3 linked regions of the Homo sapiens genome follow. The protein of the gene in region 1 interacts with the protein of each later gene in a biochemical or structural test. Each region holds a gene or a part of one and is shown on either strand. Other genes may lie near its edges.

Region 1 (3,500 bases):
TTTAATTGTATGTTAAAGCTTTTCTTCCAAGTTAATCATAACAAAAATATACAAATGCTGAAATGACCTTTAAAATGTCTCACACTAAAGAATATGGCCAAATAGAAACAAAAAGAATTCACGTGATTTATCTTTTTAGTTAACCCAAATATTACAAGAAAAATCTAAATGATATTAATACTAGGATAACTTTGAAATCTAACTTTCAGAAAAACTATCAACTTCCTTCATCTTCAAAATCTCCACACCTTTTGTAAAATAAAATGATATCTAAAATATATATTATTTAAAGCCAACATATACTCTGTCCTCGTAAGTTTAGAAAGTGGATAAATGTAGTAGTAGGAATACAAACCCCTAAAATGTATATACCATAATAATTAACATACCATCAAGAAGTTACCCTGTTTCTTGCTTCAAAATTGAATCGAGGTGGGTACATTGTAAGTTTCAATATCAGTATATGAAATTTGCATAGAGCTATAAAGCCATACCTATATTCTGATAGCTTAGGTCATTCTCAACTCCTTTCTCCATGTCTAAACTTTTTGAATAGTTTATTGCCTGTTTCAGTTTTCTCTCTGTATGTGAGGCACTAGCAGTAAACTTGTACAGGTTTGATTTTTCAGATCCAAAATGAGCCACACTGGGTTTCTGTAAGAAGCAATGTTTTCTATGGAAATGCTGCTGTGCACTCTCAGGATCATGAAATGCTTTGGTGCAGGTGCCACACTTGATTACATACTGCTGCTCCTCCTCATCACTCTTTTCTTTGTGCACTTGATGGATATGAGTGTTCATGTCGGTTAAATTCTGTGCTGTTGCCGAACATAAACTGCAGCGAAACCACAGTTTTCCTTTATCCAGCATGATTTGGAGACATCTGCTATAATCTTCTTTTCTGTTGACTTTACAGATGTAACTCTCACGGCAACCACAAGTTAACTGGTTACTGGTCTCTATTACTGGAAAATCATCTTCGGTTTTAATTGAAGTTTCAGTTTTTTCTGACACAAATACATAATCTATGCTGTGGTGCTCCTCATAATGACTCAGAAATGCTTCTTCCACATTAAAGATAAGATCACAAAGCCCACAGAAGTATTTAATCTTTATCTCATTGTCATGCTCATCTTGGCAATGTCGGTACAATGTTTCTATCTTATGAAAAGGCTTTCTGCAGTGAGCACAGCTGTATCTATGAAACTTGTGGCTTGCCAAAGACATGCAGTGCTGTTTTACATATTCCTGGGAATCAAACATATCTTCACAAATCCGGCATTGCCATTTACCCCTCGGAGAACTATTTGCCGGGGAATGATCAATAACAGTAATAGCTGATGAAGGCTTGTTAGCAGTCAAATTATCCAATGTTGTAGAGGATGATGGCAAAGTTTCACCTTCTACCTCATCCATCTCATAAAAATATCTGTGTCCATTATGAAATTCAGTCACATGTGCCATGATAGTATCTTTCCTTGTTAACTCCTTTTTGCATGTCCGACACCAGAAAAGAAAGTTATTTAAATGTGCCCCTCCGTGAATCCGGCTCATGTGTAAACGAATGACCCCTGAATCATCACATACCTTTCCACAGACCACACATTTATAACCCATTGTGTTTGCTGAGAAAACATGCTTTTCTACTGCATCTTCACTTGGGAATCGCTGATTGCATTCACAGAACCAGGTTTTAACTACTGATTTTTCTTTCTGGACACAAGCAACACCTTCATGGCTTTTATCTTTTAAATTCATCTTCTTTTTTGGAATGGCAATGCACTCCAGTGAGCTAGATTCTTTAATAGACATGGTTCTTTTAAGTGATGAAAATTTTGATTGATCCAACAATAAATGCAAGTCAGAAGAAGGATCCTTGTTCCCTTCGCTGCTGTGGCAATAGAGTAAGACTGATTCTTCCACTGAGTTAATGACTCGGACTTTGTGTCCTGAATTCTGCTTATGATTTTGGGTGCTGGTTTCATCCACAAAGACTTGATTGCAATCTGGACAATAACCTCTTAATATGAATTTCTCTGCAACCTGGGTAATGCTCTTCTCAGCTACAGCTACAGGTCCAGCATTTCGACAATGAACTCTAAATTAGATAAAAAGAAATAGAAAGTCTTTCAGAAGTATTTTCTAAATATACCATTGCTGCATTTTATTGCAGGAATTATAAAATAACCAACGTATAAATAAGCACTAAAAGATACTTTTCAATAAAGATGCAAATGACATAATGATGTTCTATCATCTCAAAATACTTGAGTATTATCTGCACTTTATCTATTTCTAGTTAAAATACAAAAGGCTAAAACTAGATTCAAAATTTTTTAAATTCAGGCAAATTTTAGAAAACTAAAATCTGTATCAAAAGCACTGACAGAGGACCTTATTGAACAGGCAAATTATTAGACTCTCCATGGTAATTAAACTGTATGTAAGAACACTATGGTTAAGATTCTAGACAACCCAGTTCCTATTCTTTAATAACTGATTAATGTTGATACTATAAGGCTATGGTAACCAAAACAACATGTACTGGTATAAAAACAGACACACAGATCAATGGAACAGAATAGAGAACCCAGCAATAAAGCCACATACCTACAAACTACTGATCTTTGATGAAATTGACAAAAATAGACACTGGGGAAAGGACACCCTATTTAATAAATGGTGCTGATAAAACTTGACAGCCATATGCAGAAGAATAAAACTGAACCCATATCTTTCATCATATACAAAAAATAACTCAAGATGGATTAAAGGCTAAGACCTGAAACTATAAAAATTCTAGAAGAAAACCTAGGAAAACCCCTTCCGGACAATGGCCTAGGCAAAAAATTTATGACTAAGTCCTCAAAAGCAAATGCAACAAAGCCCTAAAATAGACAAATGGGACTTAAAAGCTTAAGCATAGCAAAAGAAATAATCAAGAGAATAAACAGACAACTTACAGAATGGGAGAAAATATCTGCAAACTATGCATCTGACAAAGGACTAATATTCAGAATCTACTAGGAACTTAACAAGAAAAAAATCCACAAATAATCCCATTAAGAAGTGGGCAAAGGACATGAACAGACATTTTTCAAAAGAAGACATACAACTGGCCCATAAATACTCAACATTACTAATCATCAGAGAACTTCAAATTAAAACAATGCGATACCATCTTACACCAGTCAAAATGGCTGTTATTAAAAAGTCAAAAAACAACTGATGTTGGCAAGGATACAGAGAAAAGGGAACACTTATACACTGTTGATGGAAATGTAAATTAGTACAACCTCTATGGAAAACAATATGGAGCTTTCTTAAAAAACTAAAAATAGAACCGCCCTTTGATCCAGCAGTCCCACTACTGGTATCTACCTTAAGAAAAAGTAAGCATTATATCAAAAAGACACCTACACTTGTACATTTACCGCAGCACTATTGACAATAGCGATAATGAATGGAATCAACCTAAGTGTCCATCAATGGATTATTGA
Region 2 (3,500 bases), on another chromosome or scaffold:
AAAAATACAAAAAATTAGCTGGGCGTGGTGGTGGGCGCCTGTAGTCCCAGCTACTTGGGAGGCTAAGGCAGGAGAATGGCGTGAACCCAGGAGGTGGAGCTTGCAGTGAGCCGAGATCACGCCAATGCATTCCAGCCTGGGCAACAGAGCAAGACTGTCTCGGAAAAAAAAAAAAAAAGTCACTCCAAGCTTCAAATTCTATATATATCAATTTATTTTATTTCCTAATGAAGAAAGCTCAAAAAGGGTTAAACAGGATAATTCTAATGCACCATTAAAAGGGAAAAACCGAGAATTACAGTGAAGTCACTTCCCTTATACTTAAATAATTTACCACAATTCCATTTTATTTATTTATTTATTTTGAGTCTCGCTGTGTCACCCAGGCTGGAGTGCAGTGGCACGATCTCGGCTCACTGCAAACTCCGCCTCCTCAGTGGCTGGGACTACAGGCGCACACCACCACACCCAGCTAAATTTTGTATTTTTTCATAGAGACAGGGTTTCACCATGTTGCCCAGGCTGGTCTCGAACTCTGGTGCTCAGGCAATCCGCCTGCCTCGGCCTCCCAAGTGCTGGGATTACAGGAGTAAGCCACTGCACTGGGCCCACGATTCTAAAAACACAAAAATATATGTATATTTTCATCTTCATGATGCATATGTTCAAACTTAGTAAGACGGTACTAGAGATTTAGAACAGAACTGACCAGATTTAACTGTATAACTTCAAGGTTTAGGTCAAAGCTGTCAACACAATGGGCCTCTGAATATTTACATTCAACCCTGAATGGTAGTTAAACACTAGTCATGCACAGATAGCTTCTCAGGAACTCAAAACTATAACTAAAAATTTTACTGGTTGTGTAAACCTTACCCTTTGAGTCTAGACCTATGCTAAGCCTAGAACAAACCAGTTTGATTGCATCCAAAAGTACTAGCAAACAGACTTGGAAGTATGACAGACATTGTTAATTACCTATCTGGTATCTATTTTCCCTTTCTTCCTTACAAAGGGAAACCTAAATTTACCCAGATAAAAAACGTATTTCCCAGCTTCTTTTATACCCATTTTGGCCAAAGAGATATAAAGTGAACATACTTTTTCCCTTTTCTCCTGTCTGGAACACAAAGTAGCTTTTTTGTGCCCACAAGTAGACAAGCACCAGAGTGAAAGACTGCTGTTAAGGATGGAGAAGAAAATAATATGAAGGAACTGTGGAGCTACCACATCAGCCTTGAGCTACTTTTGTCTACATTTCTTGTTTTATGAGAAAAAAAAAATTGTTTAACCTACAATAAATCAAACTTTCTGTTATTCAGCCCAAAAGTAATCCTGAAATAGAAGGTGCTATAAAAGGTATAAGTTTGGCTCATATTAAAAACAGGTGCTAGAAAATTCCTCAATGGGCATCAAAAGCAGAATGAATAAGTAAATTGAGTGTACTGCATTCCACACAATGGAAAGCCACACAGCAATGAGATGTAATAACATACAACTATATACAATAATAATGAACAAACCTCTAAACAGTGCCGGGCAAAAGAACCAACACACAGAGATACATACTGTATGATTTCACTTATAAAATGTTATGCTGTATAAAAACAGACAAAACTATTCTACTTGTTAAGTCAATACAGCAGTTCTTCATCTGAGTGCTGGTTGCATGGATGTGTTCAGTTTGTGAAAGTTCGGCAAACCAAACACTCTTGTGCACTTTTTTGTATGTATATTACTCTTTGGTAAAACCTTTAAAAATAACTGGCCCTAGATATTGAGAACAACCAGCCCAGCAAACAAAACTCCACCCTTCCTTCCTTCCTTCAGGTCTTTTCCTTCAGATCCTCATTAGCTCAGAAAAGGCAACTGAATGCAAAAATAGCCAAAAAATATAACCGATACAACGTATCTTTAAGTAAACATAGTCACGTTGCAGGAATTATCCAGATTTTAAACTGTAAAACTAAGGTGCTCAATAACAGTATCTGTGTGAACTTTTCCCCATGACTCTTTTAAAAAGAAACAGAATATCAGCCGGGATGGCGCAGTGGCTCATGCCTGTAATCCCAGCACTTTGGGAGGCCAAGGCAGTCAGATCACCTGAGGTCGGGAGTTCGAGACCGGCCTGACCAACATGGAGAAGCCCCATCTTTACTTAAAAAAAAAAAAAAAAAAAAAAATGAAATTAGCCGGGCGCAGTGGCTCACGCCTGTAATCCCAGCACTTTGGGAGGCCGAGGCAGGCGGATCACTAAGTCAGGAGATCAAGACCATCCTGGCTAACGCAGTGAAACCCCGTCTCTACTAAAAATAAAAAAACTTAGCCAGGCGTGGTGGTGCGTGCCTGTAATCCCAGCTACTCAGGAGGCTGAGGCAGGAGAAATGCTTGAACCCAGGAGGCAGAGGTTGCAGTGAGCAGAGATCACGCCATTGCGCTCCAGCTAGGACTCTGTCTCAAAAAAAAAAAAAAAATTAGCTGGGCATGGTGGCACATGCCTGTAATCCCAGCTACTCGGGAGGCTGTGGCAGGAGAATCGCTTGAACCCAGGCGGCAGAGGTTGTGGTGAGCCAAGATGGCGCCATCGCATTCCAACCTAGGCAACAAGAGCGAAACTGTCTCAAAAAAAATTAATTAATTAAATTAATTAAGTAGAATATCAGCATTATATATATATACTTTTTTAAATCACAACTTCAGGGAATTCCAAAATGGAATGCTAAAGATGTCTTAATAAAAAATTAACTGGGCCAGGCACCGTGGCTCATGCCTGTAATCCCTGCATTTTGCAAGGCCAAGGCAGGCGGATCACCTGAGGTCAAGAGTTCAGGACCAGCCTAGCCAACATGGTGAAATCCCATCTCTACAAAGATCAAAAATTAGTTGAGCATGATTGCAGGTGCCTGTAATCCCAGCTACTTGGGAGGCTGAGGAGGGAGACTCACTTGAACCTGGGAGGCGGAGGTTGCAGCGAGTCGAGATGGCACCACTGCACTCCAGACTGGGTGACAGAGCGAGACTCCGTCTCAAAAAAAAAAGATTATCGGCCTCTCTTCCTTTATCTGCCATCATGGTGTGTGCTTGACTCCACTTCTCGCCATGTCTTCTCACAAGACTTTCAGGGTTAAGTGATTCCTGGCCAAGAAACAAAAGCAAAATTGACCCATTCCCCAGTGGATTCGGATGAAAACTGGTAATAAAATCAGGTAAAACTCCAAAAGGAGCCATTGGAGAAGAACCAAGCTGGGTCTATAAGGCATTGCATGATACAACATACTTATGCTGTCTGAAGGTCACAATCATGTTACCATATCGAGCTGAAAATGTCACCACTATCTAGAGAGTTGGACATGTTTTATTGGGAATATATTTTTTTCTCTGAATCTGTTATGAACGTGTTGGTTGGCTAGGTTCAGTAATAAATATGTGAGACCTTTCATTTTTTAAAAAAAAAATCATCCTTAACAATCCCAGTGTCCTGGAAGAAGTAAATGATTCAA
Region 3 (3,500 bases), on another chromosome or scaffold:
GCTAAGATAGAATTATGCTATTTTTCTTTCTTAATTATTATGTAATCTAGCCACTTTGGTGAGCAATTTCTTATTAAGTTAGTGGTGTTTTTGCTTATTGTTTTGAGTATTCCAGAAGCAAATAGATGTTATTTCGCCTTTCTGAAGATACGGTTAAGTCTGGGTTCTTGTCACGGAGCCCTTCTGGGCAGTTTCCCACTTCACCTCTGCCTCCTCCAAAGTGCCAAGCACGCAGCAGGTACTCAGTGAGTGTCCTCTGAATGAAGGTAAAGGAACCGCTTGGCTAAGGTCATTCCTGGCCCTGGGTGGCAGCCCTTTGATTCAGGATCTGCACCTCAGTCTTACCAGAGGGCTGGGGGCTTTTAGACCCAGGTGTCTGATTCAGGCTAGCCACCTCACAGACACTTGCCGCCCATTTCCATCTAGAGGGAAAGCAGGGGCCAGTCACCCTAGGGAGACCCCATTCAGGACAAAAGAAGCTTAGAAAAAGGACCCAGCGGAGGCTATGGCCATCCAGAACGTCTTGCTCTCTATCCAGCCAGGCTGCCTGAGGCGTGCCCTTCCAGGCTTGGAACCCTGTCTCCAAGGAAGGGGATCCAACATCAGACACAGCCCCTCTCCCCAAGTGTCCAAGATCCAAAGGGGGAAAATAACAACTGTTTCTTATTCTCTTCCCTTTATTCCTATACCCTATAGAATTGCCCACATTTATTAGTATTCTGTTTTTTAATTTCAAAAAAAGGAATACATTCATACATTCACAAGGCTCAAACATAATCTAAAAAGGTATGCAGTGAATGTCTTACTCTACCCTCATTCCACCCATCCCATAGCCACTTTTATTAATTTGCATGTCCTTTTAATATTTATTTATTCAAATACAATCAACTATGAAGATATTCTTATTTTTCCCCATTCTTACACAAAAGGTAGCATCTGATACACACATTTCTGCACCTTGATTTCTAACTTAAAATATATATCATAATAATACAAATAGTTAGCATTTATTGAACACTCATTGTATGCCAGTCATTTTTCAAACTTTTATCCATATATTAACTCATTTAATCCTTCCAGTACTCCTATTATTAACCTCATTTCTCCATGGAGAATTTTCCTTATCAGTATATAAAGAGCTTCCTCAATGGCTTACAGCTACATAGTATTCCGTTGTATGGGTGGATCATAATTTATGTAACTAATTGCCTTGTGAGGGACACGTGGGTGGCTTCTAATTCTTTGCTATTGTGGACTGTGCTGCAGTGAATATATTGTATGGATATCATCTTGTTATGTGTAGAGATAGAGCTGCAGAGCAGATCCAAAGAAAGAGGATTGCTGGGTTAAATGCATTTGTAATTCTGATGGGTATTGCCAAATTGCCTTCTGTAGAGTTATTAGTTCTTTTCATAATTGCTTAGTATTTCTAATTAAACGTAGCATTGATGAGCACTATGTATCAGTCTGGCTGGCTAGTAGGCTCTCTGTTGGTGGTTCCAGAACAAGTTGATCTCAGTGTAGTCCCAGATGAGACCCTTTCTTCTGGCCTCAGGTGGGCTGACTTATTCCTTTTTTTTTTTTTTTTTTTTGAGATGGAGTCTTGCTCTGTTGGCCAGGCTGGAGTACAGTGGTGCAATTTTGGCTTACTGTAACCTCCACCTCCTGGGTTCAAGCAGTTCTCCCACCTCAGCCTCCCAAGTAGCTGGGATTACAGGCGCACACCACCAAGACTTATTCTTATCACTGCCGGTGAGAGTAAATTACAGCAATATTTCTGGGGAACTAACAGTATTTTCCCTGGTAATATTTGAAGAAGCAGCCTTGTAATGGTTAAGAACATGGACTCTAAGCTGGACTGCCTGGGTTTTTATATTTTCTTTCGCTGCTGTAACAAACTACCACAAATTTAGGGGCTTAAAACAATGTAAATGTATTCTGTTATGGTTCTGGAGGTAAGAAGTCTGAAACAGGTCTCACTGAGGTATATAAAGGTGTCAGCAGGCTTTGCTCCTTTGGGAGGCTCTCAGGGAGAACGTTTTCTTGCCTTTCCCAGCTTCTAGAGGCTGCCCACATTCCTTGGTGCATGGCCCCTTTCTGTCTTCAAAGCCGGCAACATCACAACATTCCCACCTCTGCATTCATCACATCACATCTCCTCTCATTCTCCTGCCTCCCTGCCCTTTCCTTTGAAAGGATTCACGTGATTACGTTGAACCCACCCAGATAATCTAGAATAATCTCTTTATCTCAAAGTCCTTAATTGAATAACACCTGCAAAGACCCTTTTGCCATAGTAAGGTGACATATTCACAGGTCTCAGGAATTTGCACGTGGACATCTTTAGAGGCCACTATTCTGCTACTACAGTTTGCATCTAGACTCTACCACTTACTAATCGTGTGATCTTGAACAAATTATTTTGCCTCTTGCACCAGTTTTCTCATCCTTAAAATGGGGATAATAATGGTATCTATTCCACTGGATTGTCAGGAGGATTGAATGAGTAAATATTTGCCAATGCTTATAATAGTATCTGAGACACAATAAATGCTATGGAAGTATCTGCTAGCTAAAATATATTAACCAGGCCAGGCACGGTGGCTCACACCTGTAATCCCAGCACTTTGGGAGGCTGGGGCGGGTGGATCACCTGAGGTCGGGAGTTCAAGACCAGCCTGACCAACATGGAGAAACCTCGTCTCTACTAAAAATACAAAATTAGCCGGGGTGGTGGCGCATGCTTGTAATCCCAGCTACTCGGGAGGCTGAGGCAGGAGAATTGCTTGAACCCGGGAGGCAGAGGTTGCGGTAAGCTGAGATGGTGCCATTGCACTCCAGCCTGGGCAACAAGAGCGAAACTCCATCTCAAAAAAAAAATAACCAAATAAAAATATTAAAATACAAACACTTTGATCTAGCAGGCCTATATTTATAATCTATTTCATAGGAACAAAAGCTTCCATGATTAGGCTATATAACTTGGATATTACTAAAGTGTTGTCCATATTGGCACCAAAAGAAAAAAAAAAGGAAAGGAAAACGAAAGAAAGAAAATGCACAAACAGGAAATTACCTGAATGCCAGCAAAACGACAGTGATTGAATCAATTGTGGCCCATCTGGGATATACCAGAGCTATTAAAGAGAATACATCTGATCTGTGCCTATGCACCTAGAGGAATGCTCTGAGTGAAAGTTCGTTGAGAGGAGGAAGTTCAAAGTAATTATATGACTTGATTTATTTCTTTCTTTTTTTTGAGACGGAGTTTTGCTCTTGTTGCCCAGGCTGGAGTGCAATGGCACCATCTGGGCTCACCGCAGCCTCCGCCTCCCGGGTTCAAGCAATTCTCCTGCCTCAGCCTCCTGAGTAGCTGGGATTACAGGCATGCGGCAACACACCCGGCTAATTTTGTATTTTTAGTAGAGACGGGGTTTCTCCATGTTGGTCAGGCAGGTCTTGAACTCCCGACCTCAGGTGATCCTCCCGCCCCGGCCTCC

Evidence for each region. Proteins that work in one complex are often made in the same cells at the same time.
Region 2: the proteins of ZNF451 (region 1) and SUMO1 form a complex in vitro, tested with the Homo sapiens proteins (one study listed by BioGRID).
Region 3: of the proteins of ZNF451 (region 1) and PML, one has a biochemical effect on the other in vitro, tested with the Homo sapiens proteins (one study listed by BioGRID).

The regions. Positions count from the first base shown.
Region 1 is NC_000006.12:57,145,688-57,149,187, reverse strand, and holds part of ZNF451 (E3 SUMO-protein ligase ZNF451), read right to left. Parts: intron 2,099-3,500; coding exon 495-2,098; intron 1-494. UniProt on the Homo sapiens protein: E3 SUMO-protein ligase; has a preference for SUMO2 and SUMO3 and facilitates UBE2I/UBC9-mediated sumoylation of target proteins. Plays a role in protein SUMO2 modification in response to stress caused by DNA damage and by proteasome inhibitors (in vitro).
Region 2 is NC_000002.12:202,228,598-202,232,097, forward strand, and holds part of SUMO1 (small ubiquitin-related modifier 1 isoform a precursor), read right to left. Parts: intron 3,448-3,500; exon of another isoform or gene 3,051-3,447; intron 1-3,050. UniProt on the Homo sapiens protein: Ubiquitin-like protein that can be covalently attached to proteins as a monomer or a lysine-linked polymer.
Region 3 is NC_000015.10:74,018,716-74,022,215, forward strand, and holds part of PML (protein PML), read left to right. Parts: intron 1-3,500.